Regions from separate parts of the Homo sapiens genome. Here region 2 is linked to region 1. The links come from fine-mapping of genetic effects on gene expression. Tissue or cell type: Th17 cells. Region 1 holds a variant in brackets; the other region holds the start of a gene. All regions are shown on one strand. Distances are between the middles of the regions.

Evidence for each region. PIP is the estimated chance that this variant, and not a neighbour inherited with it, causes the effect.
Region 2: HNRNPLL starts here. The variant in region 1 is fine-mapped to the expression of HNRNPLL in Th17 cells (Schmiedel 2018, PIP 0.95).

What each region holds. Positions count from the first base shown.
Region 1 is chr2:38,666,367-38,674,628 of GRCh38, reverse strand. The region is part of intron 1 of GALM (galactose mutarotase); the gene reads right to left. Among named protein-coding and RNA genes, the nearest start is that of GALM, 4.4 kb to the right of the region's middle. RefSeq lists enhancers at 7,738-8,250, 8,251-8,262. The variant A/G (reference allele first, on the strand shown) is at 3,961.
Region 2 is chr2:38,599,824-38,607,823 of GRCh38, reverse strand. It overlaps HNRNPLL (heterogeneous nuclear ribonucleoprotein L like), which reads left to right and starts at 4,896. Exons shown (of 13, transcript NM_138394.4): 1 at 4,896-5,386. The coding sequence starts at 5,198. RefSeq lists silencers at 4,717-4,786, 5,007-5,056, 5,077-5,176.

The sequences.
Region 1 (8,262 bases):
AAGGATATAGAGTAGGTTTGCCAGAGGAAATATAGAATGCTTGGTTAAATGTGAGTTTCAAATAAACAACAAATAATTGCTTAGTATAAGTTTGTTCATGTTATTATTATACATGGGACATACTTATACTTTAAAAGTTGTGTCCAGGCGCGGTGGCTCACGCCTGTAATCCCAGCACTTTGGCAGGCTGAGAAGGGTGGATCACGAGGTCAAGAGATTGAGACCATCCTGGCCAACACGGTGAAACCCCGTCTCCACTAAAAATACAAAAATTAGCTGGGTGTCGTGGCCTGTGCCTGTAGTCCCAGCTACTTGGGAGGCTGAGGCAGGAGAATCGCTTGAACCCAGGAGGCAGAGGTTGCAGTGAGCCAAGATCATGCCATTGCACTCCAGCCTGGCGACAGAGCGAGACTGTCTCAAAAAAAAAAAAAAAAAAAGTATAAGCTGTTTATTTGAAATCCACATTTAACCAGGCATCCTGTACTTTTATTTGTGAAGTCTAGCAACCTAAACAAGGACTAAAACACAAAAGCCTTCCTTCACCTCTCCACTCCCCTCCTTTCCAATGGTAACCACTATTAACAGTCTGGCACGTACACTTCATTTAAAAATTTGAATTAACTACATATTAGCAAATATATAAATACACAAACACACATATTCCATATAAAGAGAATCATACTACATAGAGTATCACACTATAATCGTACATTGTTCTGCAACTTTTCATTTATCAAATATCTTCAGATTGCTCCATGTCATGACATATCTACCATATTCCTTTTTATTTTTTTTTGAGTTCCCTTTTTTTTTTTTTTTGAGACGGAGTCTCGCTCTGTCGCCCAGGCTGGAGTACAGTGGCACGATCTCAACTCACTGTAAGCTCCGCCTCCCAGGTTCACGCCATTCTCCTGCCTCAGCCTCCCGAGTAGCTGGGACTACAGGCACCCGCCACCATGCCCGGCTTATTTTTTGTATTTTTAGTAGAGACGGGGTTTCACCGTGTTAGCCAGGATGGTCTCGATCTCCTGACCTTGTAATCCACCCGCCCCGGCCCCATATTACTTTTGATGGCTACATGGTATAATAATCAGCATAAACTGTTTGGGGCCTTTTTAGGGGAGGGGCTGTAAAAAGCAAAGTAGCGTCCTCATACTTACAACTTTGGGCGTGGGCATATTATGGTACTTTTCTTCTCTTTAAATTCCTCTGTGCTTACTTTACGATGGAAAAGATTAAGGTCTGGAGATTGTTTTCTGTATTATTACCAAGATTACTTTCCACTCTAGTTTTCACTTAGATGTCCTCTGAATTCCATTCCCTTTTCCCGTGGTACTCTGTATCTGTCATGTCTACTTCAGATCAGCAGAGAATGCAATTCAAGCATATGAACTATTTTTTCAAGGGATGGAGAGGCTCTCAGGATACAGACCCTGAGCTGATTAGGCCAGTTACAGGTCACAGGTTTCCATTACCCAACTGGTTGGGTACAAATTAAACATTAATCCTTCTCTTCCAGGCCTTTCCTGGTTTGCTTCTTTGCTAATCTGCAGGTGCATCAGAGTGTTGCCCATTGACTATCATAATAGCTAACACTTACTGAGTGTTGTGTTTTTTTTGAGACGGAGTTTTGCTCTTATAGCCTGGGCTGGAGTGCAGTGTGCGGTCTTGGCTCACTGCAACGTCCGCCTCCTGGATTCAAGCAGTTCTCCTGCCTCAGCCTTCCAAGTAGCTGGGATTACAGGTGCCCGCCACCAAGCCCAGCTAAATTTTTTTTTTTTTTTAATAGAGATGGGTTTTCACCATGTTGGCCAGGCTGGTCTCAAACTCCTGACCTCAGGTGATCCACCTGCCTTGGCCTCCCAAAGTGTGTCCCAGCCACTTTCTAAGTGCTCTACATTTACTTCATTTCATACTCAGAACGTTTCTATGATGTAGACACTATTACTATCCCAATTTACAGATGTGGAAACTGAGGACAGAAAAGTTAAATAACTTGCCCCAAAACACACAGCTAAGTAGTGGCAGAACCAAGACTTGAATCCAGACAGTCTAGCTCATGAGTCCATGTTCTTCAGTATCAAATTATGTGAAAAGCGCAGGCTTTCTGGTTATTAACCTTACCTCCATCCCTAGGCACAGGCCAGGCTGATCTCTCTCTCTCCTATTCCCACCTCTCCCCACCTTCTTCTCTTTCTGAAAATAGCTTTAAAAGCCCATACACTGGTTAACCAAAAGGAGTCCCAAAGAGCCAAACAATCTTTCCTTGGTTTTGTTTCATCCGCTTTTCAGAAGCTCAAAAATTATAGAAAAGCAGAATTTTTTTTCTAAAAAACAAGATGTTTGACTGTAGAGATTTTTGAGTCCTACTTTGATTCATTCAACAAGTGAACACTGAGCTCCCGCTCTCTGCCAGAGGCACACTGGGTGTTGGAGACAACCACAAAGCCAACAGCAGGGCTCCTACCACATGGGCTTGCAAGAATTCCCTTACAAGTGACCACTACCCAAAACCAATCACGTCATGAAGATAAGAAGCACTTGCCAGGCCAGTTCCTTGGTTTGGAGGAATAGGGTTTTTTTGTTGTTTTTTTTTTTCCCCATAATTATCAGGGTTTTTTTTGTTTTTGTTTTTGTTTTTTTGAGACAGGGTCTTTCTCTGTCACCTAGGCTGGAGTGCAGTGGTGCCATCACGGCTCATTGCAGCCTTGACCTCCAGGCTCAGGTCCCCACCTCAGCCTCCCAAATAGCTGGGACTACAGGCATGCGCCACCACACCTGGATACTTTTTGTATTTTTTCTAGAGACAGAGTGTCCCTGTGTTGCCCAGGCTGGTCTTGAACTCCTGAGCTCAAGTGATCCTCCCACCTAGGCTTCTCAAAGTGCTGGGATTACAGGTGAGAGCCACTGTGCCCCTGGAGGAATAGTTTTTAAGAATTTAAGCACAGCAGAAATCCTGTCTCTGAAAAACCCTTTAGAACAAATAAATTTTATACTACCTTCAAATGTTACTGATACGCTTTGGCTTTGTGCTCCCACCCAAATCTCATCTCGAATTGTAATCCCACCTGGTGGAGGTAATTGGATCAGGGGGGCGGTTCCCCCATGCTGTTCTTGTGATAGTCAGTGAGTTCTCACGAGAGCTGATGATTTAAAAGTGGCAATTTCCCCTCCTTTCTGTCTCTCTCCTACTGCCGTGTAAGATCTGTCTAGCTTCCTCCTCGCCTCCTGCCATGATTGTAAGTTTCCTGAGGCCTCCCCATCCATGAGGAACTGTGAGTCAACTAAACCTATTTTCTTTATAAATTACCCAGTCTCAGGCAGTTCTTCTATAGCAGTGGACTAATAGTTACTAAGCTTTCACATCAAATCGGAATTACAAAAGTGACAATCCCCAAATCCCGAATAAGGCATGGCTAAAAATTTGTTTTGAAATGCAGAAAATACTATTTTTCATGAAAATGTTCAAAGTTCCTAGGTCAAGCCATGAATATTGATTTAACCAAGTCAATTGCTGAGCTTAGAGTAGAGGAAACGCTTCCCCCTTTCCTGGGCAAGGCACTGGCGAGAATAAATTAATAAATGCTTAATCATGGGATATGGCCCTTTCCACTCCTCTAACAACCCAAGGACCACACTGTGACACCCAATTTGGACAGCCCAAAATTAGCCAGAGTGCACTAAAGTCTGAAATAAAATTACTCACCACTCTCAATCAAAACCCCCATTCACAGAATGACTTATCCTTTGGTTATATGAAGAAAACAATTTAATTAATAAGCACTTTAGTAATCTCAGATAATTTATATACTTTTTAGTGGCTGCTTGCTGTCCTAGTTGAATCTCCATGCCATTTTTTGCAGTGTTAATTAAGTGAAATAAAAAGTTCTAGTAGAGTCAGAGATGGTATTTGGGGGCAAAGGAAAGAAAGGGGATAAAAATGATTAGTTGCTCCCTCTG[A/G]TCAGAGACGTATCAAATATGTGGTCAGATATGGTTAGACACATATCACAGCCCATGGCTCATTAAATCATCACAATCCATTTGTTTCACGTGAGAAAATAGGTCTGGAGAGTTTAAGTAAATTGCCCGGGGTCGCACAGCTTTAAGGAAGGAAGCAGAACTTTAAACCAGGAATTTTCAATGCTCCCACCAGGGTGCTCCTGGGCGTGAGCGACAATAAACTGCAGCCTCTAACCTGATCCTTTTTTTTCCTCATCCCTGCTTCTGAACCCAGGTTTTCTAAAGGCACTAAATTTACTTTTTCTATTTTTTCCTTAATGCCTCTCATGGCAGTTAATAGCCAGGTCTTTGGTGGCAACTGGGGGAAACATGAAAAGGAAGGCGTTTCAATGATTGTATGGGTAGGTTGTTTATACCTGTGGCTTATAAGCAAATATTTTCAGCACAGGCTTTGAAAGAAATCATAATGACTGTAGGTGGGACATGCCGATGAAAAATATTTTTAGGCTGGGCGTGGTGGCTCACACCTGTAATCCCAGCACTTTAGGAGGCTGAGGTAGGTGGATCACTTGAGGTCAGGAGTTTGAGACCAGCCCTGACCAATATGGTGAAACCCCGTCTCTACTAAAAATACAAAAATTAGCCGGGTGTGGTGGTGCCCACCTGTAATTCCAGCTACTTGGGAGGTTAAGGCATGAGAATCGCTTGAACCCAGGAGGTGGAGGCTGCAGTGAGCCGAGATAGCGCCACTGCACTAAAAAAAAAAAAAAAAAGAAAAACTTTTTTTTTCTTCTTTTGAGATGAAGTCTTGCTTTGTCACCAGGCTGGAGTGCAGTAGCACAATCTCGGCTCACTGCAACCTCCACCACCCAGGTTTAAGTGATTCTCCTGCCTCAGCCTCCTGAATAGCTGGGATTACAGGCATGCGCCACCATGCCCAGCTAATTTTTGTATTTTTAGTAGAGATGGGTTTCACCATGTCGGCCAGGATGGTCACTGTCTCTTGACCTTGTGATCCACCCACCCAGAGTGCTGGGATTACAGGCGTGAGCCACCGTGCCCGGCAAAAAACATTTTTAAATACAAAAAAAGGTTGAAAAACTCATAGGAGGCATTACTGATTTTTCTAGGCTGTTGTAGCAGGACGAGCCGCAGACAAAACTCCTTAGACACCGGATTGAAGAAGGCAGACTTGCGTCTCAAAAGCCGAGCTCACCGCGTGAGCAATTCCCGTCCCTTTTAAGGGCTTACGACTCTAAGGGGGTCTGCGTGAGAGGGTCGTGATCGATTGAGCAAGCCAGGGGTACCTGACTGGGGGCTGCATGCACCGGTAATCAGAACAGAACACAACAGGACAGGGATTTTCACACTGCTTTTCTATAAAATGTCTGGAATCTATAGATAACATAACTGGTTAGGTCAGGGGTCGATCTTTAACTACCAGGCCCATGGCGTAGTGCCGGGCTGTCTGCCTGTGGATTTCGTTTCTGCCTTTTAGTTTTTACTTCTTTCTTTGGAGGCAGAAATTGGGCATAAGGCAATATGAGGGGTGGTCTCCTCTCTTACTGTAACTAAAAATTTATATAATTTTCTTCTTTAGAATTCTATGAAAGAAAAAAATCCCATTTTCCCAGGGAGAAACTGAACCATTCTGACCTCTGGTTATGGCTGTCATCCAAACAGTTTATATAACCTGTCTGGGAAATTGAAGATTGTTCATATCTAACTCTGCAGTTACAAAAGGACCATGTCTCATGGAATTATCCACGCTCAGATCTTCCGCATGGCTCAAAACCATTTTTGGGATATGGTAATGTCAAGATAACCCCTTATTCTGTCAAGTATTTAAAAAAATTTTTTTTAAATTTAAATTTATTTATTTATTTATTTATTTTTATTTATTTTAGAGACAGGGTCTCACTATGTTGCTCAGGCTGGTCTCAAACTCCTGGCCTCAAGCGATCCTCCCACTTTGGACTCCTAGGATTACAGGTGTGAGCCACCATGCCGGCCTCTGTCAAGTCTTATTACTTTAAATTATTTACCTCTGTTTGTTTATATATACTTACATACTCTGATGGTTTAAAAGAATATGCAGTGAAAATTAAGTCTCCTTCCCATCCTCTGCACCCTGGGCACCCAGGATCCTTTCTTAACAACCACTGTTACCAGTTTATTGTTAACATAGGTTTTAATGCACTAGAAATGTAGTATCAGAGCACCATCAAAATAGTAACAGAGTGTTGTATATCTCCCCTGTAAGAGTCACAGCCCACACCTCTACAACAAACACAGGGTAACAAGAGAAAAGCAAAACAGCTGGGCACAGTGGCTCATGTCTGTAATCCCAGCACTTTGGGAGGCTGAAGTGGGAGGATTGCTTGAGGCCAGTAGTTCGAGGCTGCAAGTCAGCTATAATTGCACTACTCCACTCTAGCCTGGGTGACAGAGCGAGACTCCACCTCTAAAAAATAAAAAATACATAAAAAAGCCAAACAAATTTATTTGATTATAGTTTTATGTGACACGGGAGCTTTCAGAATGAAGACCGACAGATACAAGGAAAACAATCCATTTCTATGCTTAGGTCCAATGGAACATGGACAGCCATGTAGAAATATGATTGGACCAAAAGGGTAAGATCTGTTGCTAATAGAGTGAGTGGGGAAACTCGGCAAGGCCTGTGTTCAGATTTTTCTTGGCCTCCCCATGCAGCATTTCTTCCTCCGGGTATGGGGCAGGACCCCTCTGGAATGAGGGTCTTAATTTCTTTATGGTCAGCTGTTACACAGAAAGGCAGAGGGAAAGGTTAGAGTATATTTTTATTTTTTTGAGATGGGGTCTCACTCTGTCGCCCAGGCTGGAGTGCAGTGGCGCAATCTCGGCTCACTGCAACTTCCGCCTCCCAGATTCAAGTGATTCTCCTGCCTCAGCCTCCCAAGTAGCTGGGATTACAGGTGCCCGCCAGCAGCCTGGCCAACATGGTGAAACCCCATCTCTACCAAAAACACAAAAAAATTAGCCGGGCATGGTGGTGTTCAACAGAAAGCTGAGTTTTGTTTTTTTCCCTGAGGAATTGAAATTTGCTCTCTGTTTTTTAAGATAGAGTTTCGCTCTGCCACCCACGCTGGAGTGCAGTGGCGCAATCTTGGCTCACTGCAACCTCCGCCTCCTGGGTTCAAGCTATTCTCCTGCCTCAGCCTCCTGACTAGCTGGGATTACAGGCACGTGCCACCATGCTCAGCTAATTTTTTTGTATTTTTAGTAGAGACAGGGTTTCACCATGCTGGCCAGGCTGGTCTGGCCAACATGTAACCATGAGCCAAGTTACATATCTTACGTATCGGAAGAACCAAACAGACAGAATGACACACCAAAAGGAAAACCTCAAACCTCCTCTCCAGCAGAATTTGTCTACGCCCCAACCACTGAGCAGAGAGTATTAACTCTCAGTTTCCCTTTGCCAGCTTTATTTCACACCTCATTTTCTGTCTAGTTACACCATGGTGCTAAGAGAGCATGATGTACATTTTCCTTTGCTGCAATCAAGCTGCAATTGTCATTCTTTATTTATGCAATTACTGAGTTAAAGTCTATCTCCCCAGCCAAACCGCAAGAGTGGGGACCTTGTCTGTCCTGTTTAATGAGGTCATCGGATTAATAGAGTTGTCAAATGTATTAATTAATGCCTGATCCTAATTGCCCATGGATTCTGGGATAAAAGTCCATCCTAGTTGGTAGGAGACCTGATCTCTGAGAAGACACTGAGTTGGTCTTCTCTATTTTGTTCCTAAATGGTTATTGGGTAGCTGGTGTACTAGGCAACCACTGAGCTTAGTGGAGCATTTCTGAGACAACCAGGCCTCAAAGAGAATCTGATCAAGGAAGAAGGAAGTAGAAGAGGCAAGTATTTGAATTTCCTTCTTCAGAAGGGAAGAAGTGGGAGCCACACCCCCTCTTGCCTGCTCTTTCCTCTCCAGCCTTCTCCAGGTATCAGGCAGTTCAAAGATTAGGCAGTTCAAAGATCGCTCCAGGATCGCTGAAGTGTATCATACCATCAGCTGACCTTTTACGTTAACTGGGGCAAAGCCTGAACGGATAACCAGAGGCCAACTGCCATAGTTTATTTATTACAGTTTTTCCCAAATGCTGGATGGCCACACGGCCCTCTATGATGCATGCGCTTGCAAGTCAGACGGTCCCAAGCTAGGCGACTTTCCCCCTTGGTCCCTCGCATTGCAAGTGGCCCGCTAGATCCGGGAGGTATGTAGCGTGGGCCTGGGGCCTGCTCGCAGCCCAGGG
Region 2 (8,000 bases), 67 kb after region 1:
CACAGTACTCTTTCTCAGTGATCTCTGTCAAACAAGTGGCATCGTCAGAAATAGTGCACTCTGGATTTAACAAAACTTCATAGAAACTAACTGATTTGTCTCTGAATAGCTGGATTTCATGTTAAGTATGTTGTCTTAATCATAACACACCTCTATGGCTCTAATCCTTTGGAAGTGTGACTCACAATAAGATGTGCATGAAGGTTTTACTGGACTTTAACAGGAGTTGAGGCAGGAAACAAAAGTTTTGCATATTCAATGAAATGGCAGCAATATTGGAAATTGAGTTTGGGTATGAAAAACTTGTAATTTGCATCTTTAGTTATTCAAATAATGCATCCATCAGAAAATGGTGACACTTTTCACATAATTTCTGGGCTTTTTCTACAGAAATTAAGTTGAAGGCTAGGCACAGTGGCTCATGCCTGTAATCCCAGCACTTTGGGAGGCTGAGGTGGGTGCATTGCATGAGGCCAGGAGTTCACAACCAGTCTGGCCGACATGGTGAAACCCCATCTCTACTAAAAGTACAAAAATTAACCAGACATGGTGGCACAAGCCTGTAATCCTAGCTACTTGGGAGCCTGAGGCACAAGAATCAGGAGGCGGAGGTTGCAGTGAGCCTAGATCATGCCACTGCACTCCAGCCTGGGTGACAGAGCAAGACCCTGTCTAAAAAAATAAAAATAAAAAAAGTAAAAAATTAACACTAAAACAGTGCATTATATTTGTAATTTCCTGTGGAAGTAAATTGAATTTCCTTATACAAATGCAAATGATGAAAACTATAACGTATTCAATCCTTCCCAGGATTATAGCTACATAAACCCAGGTATAAATTAGTGAATGAAGCTGAGTTCAGTGGCTCATGCCTGTGATCCCAATGCTTTGGGAAGCTAAGGCAGGAGGATCTTTTGAGCCCAGGAGTTTGAGACCAGCCTGGGCAATATGGTGAGACTCCCGTCTCTACCAACAACAACAACAAAAAATAGCTGGGTGTGGTGGTATGTGCCTGTGGTCCCAGCTACTTGGGAGGCTGGGGTTGGGAGGATTGCTTGAGCCCAGGAGGTAGATGCTACAGTGAGCTATGATTGCGCTACTGCACTCCACAGCCTGGGCAGCAGAGTGAGATCCTGTCTCAAATAAAGAAATAAATAAAAAGGAGAAATCAGTGAATGAATTAGCATCATTATATAATAAGTGACTATAAATTAGATCTGTATGTCCATGGTAATAAATAACACAATAATTAAATCATCAGTCTTCTGATGACGAGTACTGGCTCTGGAACCCGATTGCTTGGGTTCCAGTCCTGGCTTTTCAATTTATTAACTGCAGCTCTAGGGCAGGTTTCCTTTTTTTTCTTTTCTTTTTTTTGAAACAGGGTTTCACTCCAACACCCAGGCTAGAGTGTAGTGGTGCAGTCACGGCTCACTGTAGCCTGGACCTCCCTGGGCTCAGGCAATCCTCCCACCTCATCCTCCTGAGTGGCTGGGATTACAGGCACGCACCACCATTCCAGGCTAATTTTTACAATTTTTGTGGAAACAGGGTCTTGCCACGTTGCCTAGGCTGGTCTCAAACTCCTGGGCTCAAGTGATCTGTGTGCCTCTGCCTCCCTCTGTGCCCAGCCTAAGGCAGGTTTCTTAATCTCCCCTAGACTGTTTCTTTAATTGTATACTGGGAAGAGTAATAATAATGCCTCTGGTAGAAGGCTTCTGTCAGAATTTATTGACAAAACCCTTTCAGTGGTTAGCACAGTGACTGGCACATTAAATGTGGCTATTAATTATTGTATATGTATTATTACATATGGATGCTTGTAGCCTATCTCTTGGGTATGAGCCTTGTTTCCACAACTTGATTGCAAGCTTTGAGAGGGCAGGGACCAGCTCACGTAGTCCTCTCATCACCTAGCACAATGTCTTATAAATTTTATAGATCAGTAACGAGATTTAAAACTAAAGGGCAATTTGAGGCTGGATTGATTATAAAGGCCCTTGACTCTCAATTTCCCTAGGCCTGCCCTAAGCCTGTCTCCTACTCCAGTATAGCTGGAGTCCCCTTTGAGCTGTGGCAATGGGAGCTCTTGGCTGCTGCCTACTTGACAGCAGCGAATTCAATCAAATGTTCAGAAAATAGTCAAAGGTCTGAGGCCGTAATGCATGAGAGGTTCCAGACAGTCATGGCATTTAGGAGCTGTTTCTGCTTTTCTTAGGTATTTCTGGCTACTGGGCAGTGTGTAATTTCTTTGTCTCACCTAAGTGAAATAATGTAGAGTATAATTTATGTCCTCTCTCTTTAGCTCCTCATGCCCTGGTGATGAGCTAGCTAGTATTTTCCTTATCAAAGGACCTACTGTCACTGTCTGAACAACTCATCTGCAACAAGCTCGCATTTCACCCATGGTTAACGAACTGATTGGTGTCCTTTAAAAATGCTTTCTAAGTTTTACTCCCTCAATATTTTTTTTTTTACTCAACTGGGCTACTTACAAAAAGAACAAAGTTTAATACTGGTACATATTGAATTCCACCTGCTGTTTGTGAACGCTGAGCACAGCAGCCCTAGGTTTGGCAAGGCTGGATTTCCTTACCCATTGGTGTGACAGTTGCATTGTAATGTGGTATAATCCATAGGTTGAATGCAGGGCTTTGAGAATTTAAAATATTTGCATCTTCACAAGAAATATTTGGAAAGTTTGTATAAGGCCTAGTAAATCCAGTTGTGAGTGAATAGAATTTACCAAACTAAATTCACCTAGCATATGAAAATGTACATAAAACAAAATTAACAGGTAGTTGCTCATACTTAACAAAAAGATATTTAGTGCTTCTCATCACACTCAATTATTTCACATAATATTCTATTGTTTTCTTTCTCCTAAAAAATAATTGTTTTAAGCTCTCAGCTCTTCTCTTTTAATTTGAGCAAACTAAAAATATCTTGAGAATGGCCCATCTCACCTCATCAAAGAAGTTTCCTTTGTATCAAGTTTATTAATTCACTCATCCTTTCCTGATCTTTGATACTGAGACTGCTATAAAAAGGACAATGGATGCTAAAGATAACACGTGAAGTAGGTTTGTTAGACCTTTTTTTTGACCCTTGGTATCTTCAGCTTTCTGAAGGCCAGGTAATGTCTGCATTCTGAATATGTTAGGGGACATATGAATCCATAGGACATATTTTAAGCAGAATTGTATCATTGTTTCCCTTGTTGCTATTTTACTTTCCCAAACCATTGCAGAGCTTTTTGCCAATGACATTTTCTCATCCGCAGCCAGCTCTGCCACTCTTTTGCTATTTCTTCTGTCGACTTCCATTTTAATTTAAAAAATAAATTTATAATTTTTTTAGTTCTGTTTTGTCAATGTATACCTGCAGCCGCACACACATTTGATTATAGCTGCATAGTGTGGAAAATCTTGCAATTAGATTCCAAAATGACAGCCGGTGTAATTTACAAAGTACAAAAGTGTTATGTTAAAGCACTCTCAGCAATAAATAAAAATAGCTTTTTTGGAGGAGGAAATAACTTTGGAGAGAACTAGGCTGGAGGAGGAAGCAATCTACACTCTTAGGAAAGGAAGAGCCACATCTAGGAAAGCATCCGAGGGACAAGGACAACAGAAACACAAGAGGCTCTTGATCTCAGGCAGTCCTCCAAGAGGCACCTGACAGAGGGCAGTTAGGTTGCCTTGATTTGCCAGTTTCTGTCCTGAAAGATACACTGGACCTTTATTTCCCAAGGACTACTCATTCAGCATTGTTGAGCACCTAAATTGTGCTGGAGATCGCACAGGAACTGGGCTTGCGAAAATGAAAATTGCACACAGTTCCTGTCTTCAGGCGCTCACAGAGTTTTTAAAACAGAACATCTTAAGAGGGAGTTATAAGGGGCCCTGTTGCAAAAAGAGAGCAGCAACTAAAATCTTGGAAAAGCCCTCAGGACACCACAGAGGAAGCAAGCTGTGATCACAGAACTTTGAAAGGCTTTTGTATCTTTCGACAATAAATGATCAAGTGAAGTAAATACATTGTCCAGAAGAGAAAGAATTGGGATGGAGGATGAGATTTTATATGGAAGGATTAAAACATATTTAACTGGAGCAGGGACTTACAGGGACAGGCAAGTCAGTAAAGGGCCCAGGTTACAAACGAGTTATAACCGATCAGACCGACGAGCGCCCGCGTGCAGCGCCTCCTGCCGACGCGCGCCTCGCAGCCTTCAGTCAATGCTGACAGCTGTTCTCCAACACCCAGCTAGGGGCGGGAGGGTCCGCCCACTTCTACCAGATTTTGCACACAAAACAGTGGAAAGACCATTCTCATGGCTCCAAGCCGTTTTCTCCCTTCATCGCCTGCAATTTTAGGGCTTTTCGGGGGGTATGACTGCAGGGATTTTAGAGGTTTTTTTCCTCATTCTCTTTTTAAGAGGTGATAAAAAGCATTTAAATTAGCGGCAGGGCGGTTAACACCCGCAGCCCTAGCCTCTCCGCACTTCTCGTCGCTCGTCCGTGTTCACTCCACGCCTGGCCTCGGGTAGGAGCCGCATAGCGCCAACGGTTGCGGGTCGCAACTACTCCCAGGCGGCGCGCCTTGCGCGCCGGGCCTCCCAGGACCGCGGCGAGTTCAGAAGGCGCGGGGAGAGAAGTGAGGTCGAGCAGCGGGCGGCTTTTGACGAACGGCCCTCACAGCCAATGGGAAGCCCGGTCGACTTTCCCGCCCCTGCCAATAGGGAGCAGAACCCGGGCCGGGGGGGGCGCTTCCCGCAGGCTGCGGCTGGATTCGATCCTGCGCGACGGCCGCGAAGGCGGGGGCGGAGGCTCGGCCTGCGCGGCTGGGAGCGGCTTAGGGGAGGAGGGAAGACCGGAAGCCACGGTTGCGTCCCCATCCTTAGATTCGCTCCTCCGGGCAGGGAGCGGAGACGGAGGAGGAGGAGGGAGAGGCTGAATGTTGGCTCGGTAATTGAGAGGAGCGGCCGCTCCAGAGCTTCCTCCCGGGGCGCCCCCCTCAGTCCGTCCGCGCTTCTCAGCCGCCAGTCTCCTGGCCGCGCAGTCCCCGCGGACGGCCGGGCCGCGGAGACCCTCGCAGAAGAGGCGCTGCCGGCGGCGAGGACTGGCCGGCGGCATCCGAGGCGCGCGCCCCACCGCCACCCCCACCCGCCTGCCAGCCGGTCCCTCCGGCCGCCGCCATGTCCTCCTCCTCTTCCTCCCCCAGGGAGACGTACGAGGAGGACCGGGAGTACGAGAGCCAGGCCAAGCGTCTCAAGACCGAGGAGGGGGAGATCGACTACTCGGCCGAGGAAGGCGAGAACCGCCGGGAAGCGACGCCCCGGGGCGGGGGCGATGGCGGCGGCGGCGGCCGGAGCTTCTCTCAGCCGGTAACAAAGCGCGGCCCCCCTGTCCGCTGTGCCTGGCTGCTCCCCGGGAAGCAGGGCCTCGGTGCGGGGCCTCCCGCTTGCTTCAGTTAGCCTTTTCCGCTGCGCCGACCCGTTTGGGGAAGCGCCCACTCTTCTCTTTGGGGCTCGTATTCTGGCCTCTACCTGTTTCCCGCATCCCGACTGCGAACCCGGCGCCGTCCTGGCCGCAGGCCCCGCAGCGAGTCCACTGCCGGGCCCTGAACTTGGGGAGGGTCGCGGCGCGGCGGCGGCGGCGGGGAGGCGTCGCTTCCGCTCTGGGGGGTTTCGCGGCTCGGGGAGCTCTTTGTTAGTTTAACTCCTCGGGCTCGGGGCCAGCGTCGGGACCACCGGTTCTCTTCAGTCCCTCTGCCCGCAGCAGCCGCGCGTTGGTCACCATCCCGGGATGGTTGCGTCGGTTCTACCGGGAGCTCTCTCCGCCTCGGTCCTATGGAGACCCGTAATTAAATAACAGATTATGCCTTGGCGTTCACATGCTAGTTCCCTTGAAGGTTTAATTTAAAAAATTTTAAAATTAAACTCTTTATAAGCATGGCGTGCATCCTTTGCTCTACCCAATTTTGTGGATTACTCAGTACACTTTTTACCTCTTCGGTTACAACACTTCAACAGAAGTGTTGGCAGCTGTTGGTACACCCCTACCTTCAAGTAAAACAAATCTTAAAATTACTAAAGTTTTTCATTGGTAATTTATTCCACATTTGCCCCATGAAAGGATGAAGTGAGCTCAGGGTTGCATTAAACACACATTCCTAGAGCCAGGTCTTTCTCTTACCAGAAATGTTAGGGGGAGGCAGAAGGAATGTGATCATTTTGTCCACAGCAAGTAGTTAGCTTCAGTTGGATGGAGACTTTAAGGAAACAAAGCGGAGCAAACGTTATTGCCCTTTTTTGGTGCACTTAAGCGGTTTTAATGACTTAGATGTTATTTAAACATTTAACACATGAATTGTGATTAATTCTGCAAACTTTAACAGAATTACGAAACTGTACACATATATCCTACTATTAGGTTAAAAGGGTTTTTACCTTACCTTTTAAAAATAAGACGCACATTAGAAGCCCTTTATAGCCGTTTGAATTTTTAAATAATAAAAAAAAAGGCTGGTCAGTCACCCAGCGTTGCAGTTTCCAGTTACCAGGATGTGAGAGCAAACTTTGCAACACATTTAAAAAAGGAACTTTTTCTCTCAGTCTTGTTACGGTGTTAGCTATTACTTTAGATTTTTGTGCCGAGCTATTTGAAATATTCAAAATGTAACTTGGAAGTGTGAATAAAGGAAATGGTTTTTTCTTAGGAAGTTTCAGTTCAAAGCCAACTCTGTTGTGGAAATTGGAAACAGGAATATTATAACTGATATTTCGATGTATTCGATCAGTGTACCTCGTTGCTAGAAATCTTGCTTGGGTTTTTGTGCAGCATCATGAAATGTCTTCAGGCATTTTGGAAAGATACTTAAATCAGATTATAAAAATTTGTTTTTGAAAACAGATAAAGCATTAAATCAATAGTATTATTTTGGATGTTGGGAAGAAAATAACATATAATTAATGTATCCAAAGCGAAATGTGTGGAGCGGTGGAAATGGCACTGAGTAGGGCTTGGGGGTGGTCAAGAGTCTAGGCTTAGCATACAATTTTTTTTTTTTTTTGAGAGGATCTCACTCTATGGCCCGGGGCTGGAGTGCAGCAGCTCTGGAGTGCAGCAGCTCGTGATCACGGCTCACTGCAGCCTTGATCTCCCTGTCTCAAGCGATCCTCCTACCTCAGCCTCCCGGGTTGCTGGGACTGGAAGCCTGCATCACCACGCCGGGCCAATTTTTTTTTTCTGTGTTTTGTAGAGAAGGGGTTTCACCATATTGCCAAAGCTAGTCTCTTAACTCCTGGGCTCAAGAGATCCACCTGAGTTGGCCTCCCAAAGTGCTGGGATTACAGCCGTGAGCCACCGCACCTGGTCTTAGCATACAATTTGTGTGAGTCTGAGAAAGTCAGTTTACTACTCTGAGTTCTCTTAGTCTGTAAAATATGAAGGTTGAAACACATGCCTTTTTTAACCGAAGCTATAGTTAAGTGATTAACGTAATGCTAATGCTGCTTTTAAGTTACCCCGGCGGGAACTGATATAAGCAGATTGAGGTATAAATTTTAATTTTTTTGTTTATCTTACTGCTGATATGTTTCCTAGGAAAGGGTGAATTGTTTTCATTTAACAGTAAAACCATCATTGTACTATGAAATCTAATGAAGCCTTGTTTATCTTGTTTTTAAATATTTTTCATGTAATTTTTGGTACTATTTTGAAATCATGGCAACTATGGAAACCTGTACATAATAAAATTCTATTATTAGGATAGACGTTCCCCGGATAGAAGTTTACTGTCTTGTGCTTCTTCGTTCACATGTTTGGTAATTCATTGTAACCGAAAAGGGTTTTGCACAACTTCAGTGGTCCTTCAGCCCAGAGAAGAAATACCTTTGTGGTCAGACTGTTAAAGTAAATGCAGGTTAGGTACAATGATGGCATTCTTTTCAACTCTAGTTGGAAGTTTGTAAAGTGCAAAGTAAGCCTTTGAAGATT